Regions from separate parts of the Homo sapiens genome. Here region 1 is linked to region 2. Evidence: fine-mapped expression QTL. A gene starts in region 2. The other region holds a variant in brackets. All regions are shown on one strand. Distances are from middle to middle.

Region 1 (5,230 bases), 180 kb after region 2:
TCTAAAGACCTGAAATCAATAGAAAGGAGTGTCCGGGTTAAGATAAGAGGTTGTGGAGACCAAGGTTCTTATTATATAGGTGAAGTCTCATAGTTGAGACTTCTTAGAGACAATAGTTGGCAAATGTTTCTTATTTAGGCCTTTGAAAGGTGCTAGACTCTTAATCTTTTCAGGATCAGGAGGCCCTGGAAGGGGAAAGACTCTATGTTAACAGAGATTCTTTACAGATGCAAATTTACCCCCATAAAAGATGGCTATGCAGGACCATTTCAAAATATGGCAAAGAAACATATTTTGGAGTAAAATATTTTGATTTCCTTCTTTATCTGTCATGTGATGTTATACTAGAGTCAGGTTGGAATTTGATGTCTTATTGCTACAAGGTAGCAATAAGATCTCTCTTTTAATGTTAATGCGGGTCAATTGTGCCTGAATTCCAGAAAGGAATTCCAGAAAGGAGAAAGTATAAGGAGACACATCTGACACCCTGTCTTCCCCTCATAGCCTAAACTAGTTTTTCTGGTTTTCTTTCGGTCCCCCTGAATCCAGAGGGGTCCATTCAGTCTGTTGGGGAGCTTAGAATTTTATTTTTGGTTTACAGGGGCCATAGCATTTAAACTTCATTACTGTGTAAAGTTAAAGGACCAAGTGAAAAATAAGCTGCACTTTTTTCCACCTATTATCTCATTTAATCGTCCTGGGGTGACCACAGTGGGCAAGTATTACAATTTCCTCAGTTTTTTGCATAAAGAATCTGAGGCTCAGAAAGCTGAATAAGGAACTTAGGTCCTTTAATTCTAGCTTCTCTGCCCTTATCATTTCCCCCTTGGGGTTTTCCTGTGGCTGTAATTTAATTTCTTTTATGCAGTAGCTGAAAATAATTTATTTTTTATAATGCTTTTTTTGGTGGTAAAAGCAATCCATGCTCTTTGTTTAACAGAAATAGTACAGTTGACCCTTGAACAACACAGAGGTTAGGGGCACTAACCGCCACCCCCCCCTCACCATGCAGTTGAAAATCCATGTATCATTTTTGACTCCCCCAAAACTTAACTACTAATAGGCTACTGCTGACCAGAGTCCTTACTAATAACATAAACAGTTGATTAATGCATATATAGGGTGTTATATGCATTATAAACTGTAAGCTAGAGAAGAGAAAATGGTGTTAAGAAAATCATGAGGAAGAGAAAGTATATTCACTCTTCATTAAGTGAAGCTGGATCTTCATCTTTTTCTTCACGTTGAACAGGCTGAGGAAGAGGAGGGGGAGAAGGAGGGATTGGTCTTGCTGTCTCAAGGGTGGCAAAAGTGGAAGAGGTGGAGGAGGTGGAAGGAGAGGCAGGAGAGGCAGCACACTCAGTGTAACTTTTATTGAAAAAACCTGCATAAAAGTGCAATTCAAACCATGTTATTCAAGGGCCAGCCGTACAAACCTCCAGAAGAATATAAAGTGAAGAATGCCTGCACCTCCTTCTCCATCCTATTCCCCTAAGGTAATTACTCCAGGGACAGTTTGGGTCCCACCCCAATATTCATTGCATATGTTAATGTCCTGGTGAATTCTATCTTTTATCGAATTTCTGCATCAGGTCTGCCTGTTCTTCCCTCGATGGTTTCCTCACAGCCTCCCACAGTGTGTCGTAAGGAACCCAAAGGGTGTGATTGCTAGTGTCATGCTTGCTTGGTGTGTGTCCACTGCCTGGGGCCTGGCACTCTGCCTCAACCCACCTGAGGGCAGGCGTGCAACCCAGCCCTTCATGGATTGTTTTACTTTTCTTATTTACTTCAGGAAACATCTCTGTTCCTCTTGAGCATATTTTCTCTCTTTAATTATGGAGTGTTTTTGCCTGGGGAGTGGGTACAGAGGTGAGATAGGAAAAGTGGAAAGGAAGATCATCTTGTCGGGATAAGTGAATGAAGTCCTCCTGCAGAAAGATTTTCCGCAGGTGGTAGGTCGCGAGCTTCAGGGGGCCTGTTGTGAGATTTTGCCGCAGCCTGAATCATTATTTCAAACAAGGTGCAGCAGGGTTTAGCTTTCTGCTTTCCCTGAAGGATTTGTCAGGGTAGCTTAGTGTTTTGATTAATTAACTTAAAGCTGGGATTCTATATAAATGCAAATTGTCACCTTCCCCCACCCATTCAGTCCCTTTCAGGCACAGAAATGAGTAAGAGCTGGGGAAAATGAGGTGGAGTTGAAATTGCCAGCTGTCTGTGGCCTCATTTGAATTTTCAGGGGAAAGGGGACCCTGACTGTGCAAATGCAATACTCACAGTACAGCATTTGCAAAATGGACCAGCTGGAGCAGAGGCTTAGCCTTTGCCACCCAGGTCAGCAGCACAACACTAACAGGACAGGAACACAGGGATGCCACTAAGGAATATTTCAGATTTGAACATGCGATGGACTAAATGTGTCCCCCCAAAATTCATATGTTTAAATCCTAACCCCCAAGGTGATGGTATTTGGAGGTAGGGCCTTTGGGAGGTGATTAGGTGATGAGGGTGGAGTCCT[C/A]ACAGATGGGATTAGCACCCTTATAAAAGAGACTCCAGAGAGCTCCCTCCCCGCTTCCTCCATGTGAGGGCACAGTGAGAAAACAGTCGTCTACGAACCGGGAAATGGTCTCTCAGCAGACACTGAATCAGCTGGCACCCTGATCTTAGACTTCCCAGCTCCAGAACCGTGGGAAATAAACTTCTGTTGTTTATAAACAAGCCAGTTTATGATATTTTTGTAATGAACTAAACAGAATGCACAGCCTGAAAGAACTAAAACAGAAGGGGGAAAATGTCACAAAAAGTCTGATCTTTGTAGAGGCAAAGGAAAGCACATTTATGGAATTGTTAAAGTGTCAGGCCTCTGAGCCCAAGCTAAGCCATCACATCCCCTGTGACCTGCACGTATATGCCCGGATGGCCTGAAGTAACTGAAGAATCACAAAAGAAGTGAAAATGGCCTGTTCCTGACTTAACTGATGACATTCCACCGCAAAAGAAATGAAAATGGCCGGTCCTTGCCTTAACTGATGACATTACCTTGTGAAATTCCTTCTCCTGGCTCATCCTGGCTCAAAAAGCTCCCTCACTGAGCACCTTGTGACCCCCACTCCTGCCCGCCAGAGAACAACCCTTCTTTGACTGTAATTTTCCTTTACCTACCCAAATCTTATAAAACGGCCCCACCCTTATCTCCCCTTCGCTGACTCTCTTTTCAGACTCAGACCGCCTGCACCCAGGTGAAATAAACAGCCTTGTTTCTCACACAAAGCCTGTTTGGTGGTCTCTTCACACGGATGCGAGTGAAAAAAAGCACATTAGATTTTGACTTCAAATTTATTAGTCACTGATGTTTAATTTCCATGCAAGGCAGAGTGTGGGTGTGGAAGGGAGGACTCGGAGGGTGACAGGGAGCAGGTGTACCACCCACCCCACACCCTACGGCCTCACCTCCTTGACAGGCAGGGAAGAGCCAGACTGAGTGGTTACACATTCCTGGGCTGCCATGAATGGCGTGGGTGAACTGAGACATGAAACCTAACCTCTGGGGCCACTGGATATCTGTGGACGTGAGAGTCACCTCACAGGAAAGCTGTGGACATTTGACAAGATGTTTTTGCAAGTTGCACCTGACAACTCCCTAACAAATACCAGCTGATGTAAGGATGACTTTGCCCCAGTAGGGTTTTATTATTTCTTTGCTTTTGATACTTTTCTACCAGGACCTGCAGAGGGTGGCAGAGTGCTTTGCTGATCTGTCCCTTCTTCCTGCCTCAGGTTCTCAGGGCCAATTTCCCCATTAGGTGGAGCAGGCACTGTGCCTAGAGCCCATGAGACTTTTAGGGACCCATGAAAGTGTTTTAATTACTTTCAAAATCAGAAGAAAAAATAGAATATTAATGAATACCTAATAATGAATCTAGACTATGTCAATTTTTAAACCAATACAGTTGTTTCAAATACAATTTTTAATTTTTTTTTTTTTAATGAAGAGGGAGCCACGGAGGCAAAAGTGCTGTCAGCCCAAGAATGTGATAATGCCACCCTGTAGGTTCTGGAACTCACCTCAGAGAGTGAGTTGGCAGCATGGGTTGCTGCTTGCTGTTGTTTGCTCAGGTAATGGAACAGGTGGAGCCTGAAAGGAGATTTGTGTAGTGAGTATGGTAAGCCATGCTGACTTCAGTGTGGGAGTGAAGAGGACCACGTCAGAGCATTTTTCAGAGAGCTGAAGGTTGCATCTTAAATCTAAAGTGGTTGCTTGTCGACACTAGCTATTTTTGATGAAAATTTCCTTATCATGCATTGCATACCCTAGCCTTCTTTGTTCATTTTTAACTTTTATCAAGAAAAGGTATGGATATATGTGTATACAAACATATACACATATATGTAAGCACAAATACACACGTATGTGTGTGTATACACTTGTGTGTGTGTTAGAAGCATTCGAACCAGAGTAACTCCATCTTGAATAGGAGTGGGTAAAATAAGGCTGAGATCTATTGGGCTGAATTCCCAGGAGGTTAGGCATTCTAAGTCACAGGATGAGGTAGGAGGTCGGCACAAGATACAGGTCATAAAGACCTAGCTGATAAAACAGGTTGCAGTAAAGAAGCCGGCCAAAACCCACCAAAACCAAGATGGTGATGAGAGTGACCCCTGGTCGTCCTCACTGCTAACCTCCCACCAGTGCCATGACAGTTACTAATGCCATGGCAACATCAGGCAGTTACCCTATATAGTCTAAAAAGAGGAGGCATGAATAATCCACCCCTTGTTTAACATGTCATCAGGAAATAACCATAAAAATGGGCAACCAGTAGCTGTCAGGGCTGCTCTGCCTACGGAGTAGCCTTTCCTTATTTCTTTATTTTCTTAATACACTTGCTTTCACTTTACTCTGTGGACTTGCCCCAAATTCTTTCTTGCTCAGGATCCAAGAACCCTCTATTGGGGTCTGGATCTGGATGCCTTTCCGTTAACATGTATATATATATTTGCCATATATATGTCAAATAGTAGTAAAAGACTTAAGACAAATGATGGGATTCAGGACATGTCCTGAATTCTCCTATGACTTTAGGAGACCAGAAACATGCCACCCCCAAATATGCCTCTTTAGCATGAGGATTATTTTGAGCTGATTATTTTGAGAAACTGCAGCAGAGGAGAATCTCTGAAAACAACAGTAGAAGTTACCCTTTTGTAAGGAAAGTTTATGTCTATAAAGGAG
Region 2 (5,501 bases):
ACAGAAGACTACGTTTTTAGTTATACATATATTTTAAAATACTCCCAAAACATTTATTTCAAATTACTCTTCTTTCTCATTTGTTAATCATAGTTTAAGAAATATGATTAGTAGTTTTAATTCAAAATAAAAATGGTATGTTGAATAAAATATTACATAAACATAAATTAGTATAAAATAATTTAGTAAATTAAATCATTTAATATAAAAAGGAATTCAAAGACATTACAGATTGGCACCACATAATTTAAGTCAGTCACTTTTAGACACTAAATAACTTTAAGAGATTTTTTTTAATGAAGGAACAAATCAAAATGGCTCAGAAAAATCAGATGGAGTGGATACACAAATAAAATACATGTTAATGCTTAACACATTGAATACAAATTTTCTTTATACTAAAGACTTTAAAATGTCCATGTGTTAATTTCTTTTGGAGGTGGAAAAATAGTTTGTCCAAAAAGACACTTTTCACAGTTGAAGGAACTTGAAAGTTCTGTCCCAGTGAGTCCTAATGGTTTTATTTCAGGCAGCAGATTCATTGTCAAATATCTTACTTTTTAAGGTCTGTAGGTTATGCTGAATAAAATTCTCTGCACCATGAACTTCAGAGAATCTGAAGTCACTTCTCCTGACAGACCAGTTTTTCATTTTTATTGAATTCTGAATTGTGTCCGATGTAAAGTAGTAAACTATAGGGTCAAAACAACAGTTGGAAACAGCAATACAGAGAGTGATTGGGTACATTGTCCTTACTGCTGCCACTACTGAGCAATTAACAAATGTTTGTGTTCTCACAAGAGAATATAAAATAAGATTGATATTGTAAGGAACAAAACAGAAACAGAATATGATCAAATGTACAAAAATCATTTTTAAAACCTTAGTTTTGTTTATTTTGCTTCTACTTAATGTAACAGGTTTGGTTAAAGTTTTTAGCACCATACTAGAACAAGTTACATTTAAAATTAGAGGAATAAAAAATCCCACTATTTCGATGAAAATTACAATCCTTGAGAGATATGTTTTCCATGTGGCTTCTGGAAAATTTTCAAAGCAGGCTTCTGAGGCATTGTTACCCTGAGAGTGGGTAGACTGAACAAAAACGGCGGGTGCACTTCCTCCGATCACAGTTAACCACACGCCAGTGCAAACAATCTTTGCATTTCTTTTGGTTCTTAGAGTCTTTGACTTAAATGGGTAGACAATTGCCAGAAATCGATCTACACTAATACAGGTTAAGAACAGAATGCTTCCGTACATGTTGGTATAAAACAGCATCACAGAAATCTTACAAAGTAAATCTCCAAATGGCCAATTCCGTGTTGTGAAGTAAAAAATCCTGAAGGGTAAAGTAAAAACAAAAAGCAAGTCTGACATTGCCAAGTTAATCATGTAAGTTGTAGTTTCATTTCGGACTTTGAGGACGCAGATGAAAATGTATATGGCAACACAATTGGATATTAACCCAAGCACAAACACCATGCTGAACATGCACCCATACAAAGTGTACTTAAAGGAGTCATTATAGAAGCAGTGGGAGCTGTTAACGCTTACCATCGTAAAGGCACGTCCAATTTTCAGTTTGGAAGCACTTTCATCAGCTGCAGTCTCCTTTGGGATTCAGATTATAACCTCTATAACCTCCAATTTATTTGCAAATTATCTGGATCTTTGGATGGTTTTATAAATATTTCCTTTTTCTCAGAAATACCCAAAAGAAACATGAAATTTGTTGCTGTAAAATTTCCGCTGGGTTCTTCAACAGGAAAATATTTTCATTTGTTAGTCTTTAGAAAATCCATGAATTCCAAGGCTCAGTTAACTGACGAGCAACCTTTAAAAAATACAGTCAACGAGTCCAACCCATAGGATTATAAATTTAAAGAAAAGCTGTGATCTGTGACCAGAATGAAACCACTTGTCTTCTAAACTTGTATTTCAGTAGTCAAGATGAATACTCCAAAGTTAATGTTTCTTTATGCCTCAGAATGTTAAGCTTAAGTTATCAATCTTATTTTCTTTTCAGTGCAGAGTTTCAGAGACTTAAACATTCCCAATTTGTCCCATTTTACTTCTTGCTTCTTTTAAATGAAGTTTTCCTTTTTTGTTTTCCTGCAGTGGATCCCAGATTGTGGGTAAGCAGAAGAGTCTTTTAAAGATTCCGAAATAAACTCCCAAGCTTGTTAGCTCTTGTTGAATTGAGGCCTTTTCCTCAGTTGCCAGTTGTATCTTGAGGTCGCTTTCTCTGAAGTGAAAAAGAAAGGCTTCCTAGATTTGTAATATGACATCACAGGAAGAAGAGGCTGGGTTTGGACAAAGAAACTTTCAGCCCAGTTTGTTTGCACTTCCTTTAATCTGATAATGTGTCTGCTGGGAATATACCTAGGAGGCTTGCAAATGGTCACTGGCTGTTGAACTGCGTGGTCTGCTCATTAACTCTTTTTATGTGGAAATGCCTTCTGCGGTGCTGGCAACCTCTCAGAGTTGTTTTGATTTGTTTCAGTAGTAATAATTGAAAGAAAAAAATCACTATTCAGCCTGTTCTCTTATTCGATTGTTTTCGTGTTTGGGATATGACAATTTAGAAAAGAAAATGTGTATGGGTGTGTATTTATAAATTGAAATTGTTAGTGATATCTTAACATAGCATTTCAAAGAACTGTTTAATGACTATGAAACAGGGGCCTTTAACCTTTAAGGTATAACAAGCATTTGACTCTTGGTTTCTGAAAAATACTCAATATTTAATTGTTATCATTATGAGTAGCTCTTATCCTGGGTCTCATTAGTTTTTGATAAGCAATTTTCTAACATTCTTTCCTCTTTCCTATGCAGTTGTATTAATATTTTAGAGCTGTTTAAATTTTTAAATTACTCATTTCTCCAAAAGAACAAACTCAAGAATGTTTATCTTTGGTGTGGTGTTAATTTTACTTTCTAAGCACAAAATGAAATTGCATCTTTTTAAGCAAAATTTTTTTAACCTTAAATTGATTGAAATAAGGTTTAGAGAATAAAAATCCTACTACTTGGCAAAATTTTAGGTTCATAGTCTTATCTTCCTTCTTCCTCCCAGCTCTTCCCTTAACCCCTTAATATGACATTAACTATATATTGAAATATATTTCAGATTTTGTCTCCATCTAAAAGTTTCTATGAATGGTTTATATGTTTATATTTAAAGTATACTCATATTTTGGGCCAGGTGCAGTGGCTCACGCCTATAATCCCAGCACTTTGGAAGGCCGAGGCAGGTGGATCACCTGAGATCAGGAGTTTGAGAGCAGCCTGGCCAAAATGGCGAAACCCCATCTCTACCAAAAATACAAAACTAGCCTAGGGCAATAGTGCGTGCCTGTAGTCCCAGCTACCCAGGAGACTGAGGCAGGAGAATCGCTTGAACCTGGGAGGCAGATGTTGCAGTGAACCAAGATCAAGCCACTGCACTCCAGCCTGGGCGACAGCGAGACTATCTCAAAAAAAAAAAAAAAAAGTATACTTATATTTTAAAGACTCCAAAATCAGAAGAAGAAAGTGTGTGTAAGGTGAGGGTACTTAAATGTAGGTGTTATTTCCTCAAAGATTGAGGATATCACAACCTCTATGGCACATGTTTTTCTTGTTTTAAATATCATTTTCTTCAGAAAAGGCTAGATCTAGTTATGCCTTACTGTTATTATTTTTTTAATTTGGTCTAGTTTAAGCTGAAACTCTTCCTCTTGGGTATTAAGTAATTTAAGAACAATTTATTTTTTTCTCATAAATTACTTAGCTAGCTTAAAAATAACTTATTACAGTAAAATGTTTTGTGTTGTTTTGCACCATTCTTTCACACTCAGCAATTTTTGTCATTTGTTGATGAACTATAATCTATTTCTACTGTCTGGACTAGAAAATTCATCTATTATCAAATGACAAAAAAAGATGAGTATTACTTATAACCAATACTTAAAATTTTGAAGGGTTGAATATCTTTTATATCACATTTGGTATAGAAAAGATGTATGTGTGTGTTCTTATTAGAAGGCTGGTAGAAGCTGAGTGAGCATTAATGAAAAAAGGAGTGGTTAATAAGCTTGTATTCTCATTGGAAAAAATTTTCTGTTAGTAGTTATGTCTTACTGTTATTTTTTTTTTATTTGGTTCAGTATGTTTTAAAAAAACAAAATCTTAGTAATCTTCTTTCAAATTGATAGTCTCCTCTTTAGTCATCTTTAATTAATGAAATATATGCAGTTGTATATGCTGATCTCATCCTACTTTTACTTTCATTTTGAATATGGCGGCATTTTCTCATTCAAATAATTAAAATTTATTAATTCTACTTGGAATATTTTTCTACATATTGTCATTACTCACTTGACTTGTTATTCACTTAAGTCATTCATCTATAGTTTTTTCTTTTCTTTTCTTTTTCTTTTTCTTTCTTTCTTTTTTTTTTCTCACTCTGCCGCCCAGGCTGGAGTGCAGTGGTGCGATCTTGTCTTACTGCAACCTCTGCCTCCCAGGTTCCAGCAATTTTCCCACCTCAGCCTCCCGAGTAGCTGGGATTATGGGCACCCGCCACCACACCCAGCTAATTTTTGTATTTTTAGTAGAGATAGGGTTTTACCATGTGGCCAGGCTGGTCTTGAACTCCTGACCTCAAGTCATCCACCCACTTCAGCCTCCCCAAGTGCTGGGATTCCATGTGTGAGCCACCGTGCCCGGCCTGTTCATTTATAGTTTTTTAATGTTTGAGTTACTGGGGCTTAAAAATGGATAGATCACTATTTGTTGAATTAGGCTTTTCATTATTATCAGTATCATAGTAAATGTTTGTATAATTCTTACCACAATTCTTGGTTCTTTGTAGATGATTCTCACATGTTTGCTGATGAATGAATCATAAACTTGAATTTTGTTGCCAGTTGTTTCTACTGAGGAAGAGCCATAGCAGAGGGACTGTTTGAACAGGAAGAAGATAATTGAATACTGCATTTTTTCCAGATATTAAATTTGGCCTCTAATTAAGGAACCAAAGGGGAATTTAGAAACTTTGAAAAATTCTTAGGTTAGAATTGGAAAAATACAGAGTAACTACTTGCAAAGGGAGGTAATGAATCCATATAATCAATTATATTTAATAGATACTTTTGTATTTGATAAACTCAGGCAAACTGTTATTTTAATGTGAGATCTCTACACTTCTGGAACTTAACTCTGAGAATCAACTTATTTCTTATATGGATTTTTTGGGGGGAGCGAAAATTAAACAGAGCCAGATAGATGTTAAAATGGTGAACACAGGAACAGCTGGAGTCTGCAGCTCCCAGCGAAATCAACGCAGAAGGTGGGTGATTTCTCTATTTCCAACTGAGGTACCCAGCTCATCTCATTGAGACTGGTCAGACAGGGGGTGCAGCCCATGGAAGGCGAGCCAAAGCAGGGTGGGGCATCGCCTTACACGGGAAGTGCAAGGGGCCAGGGAACTTCCTCCCCTAGCTAAGGGAAGCCAT

Direction of the effects. Positions count from the first base shown, and alleles are read on the strand shown. Sizes are in standard deviations (SD) of each study's normalised expression.
For the expression in anterior cingulate cortex of the gene that starts at base 2,250 in region 2, allele C in region 1 goes with a lower level than allele A (small effect, 0.26 SD a copy in GTEx).

What was found. PIP is the estimated chance that this variant, and not a neighbour inherited with it, causes the effect.
Region 1: its variant is the best candidate, but not a certain one, in a credible set for the expression of LPAR6 in anterior cingulate cortex (GTEx, PIP 0.56).

The regions. Positions count from the first base shown.
Region 1 is chr13:48,592,086-48,597,315 of GRCh38, forward strand. The region is part of intron 2 of LOC105370202 (a long non-coding RNA gene); the gene reads left to right. Among named protein-coding and RNA genes, the nearest start is that of LINC01077, 4.1 kb to the left of the region's middle. The variant C/A (reference allele first, on the strand shown) is at 2,516.
Region 2 is chr13:48,410,864-48,416,364 of GRCh38, forward strand. It overlaps LPAR6 (lysophosphatidic acid receptor 6), which reads right to left and starts at 2,250. Exons shown (of 1, transcript NM_001162498.3): 1 at 275-2,250. The coding sequence starts at 1,560. The coding sequence ends at 526. All of the region lies in intron 17 of RB1 (RB transcriptional corepressor 1), which reads left to right. RefSeq lists an enhancer at 734-1,235.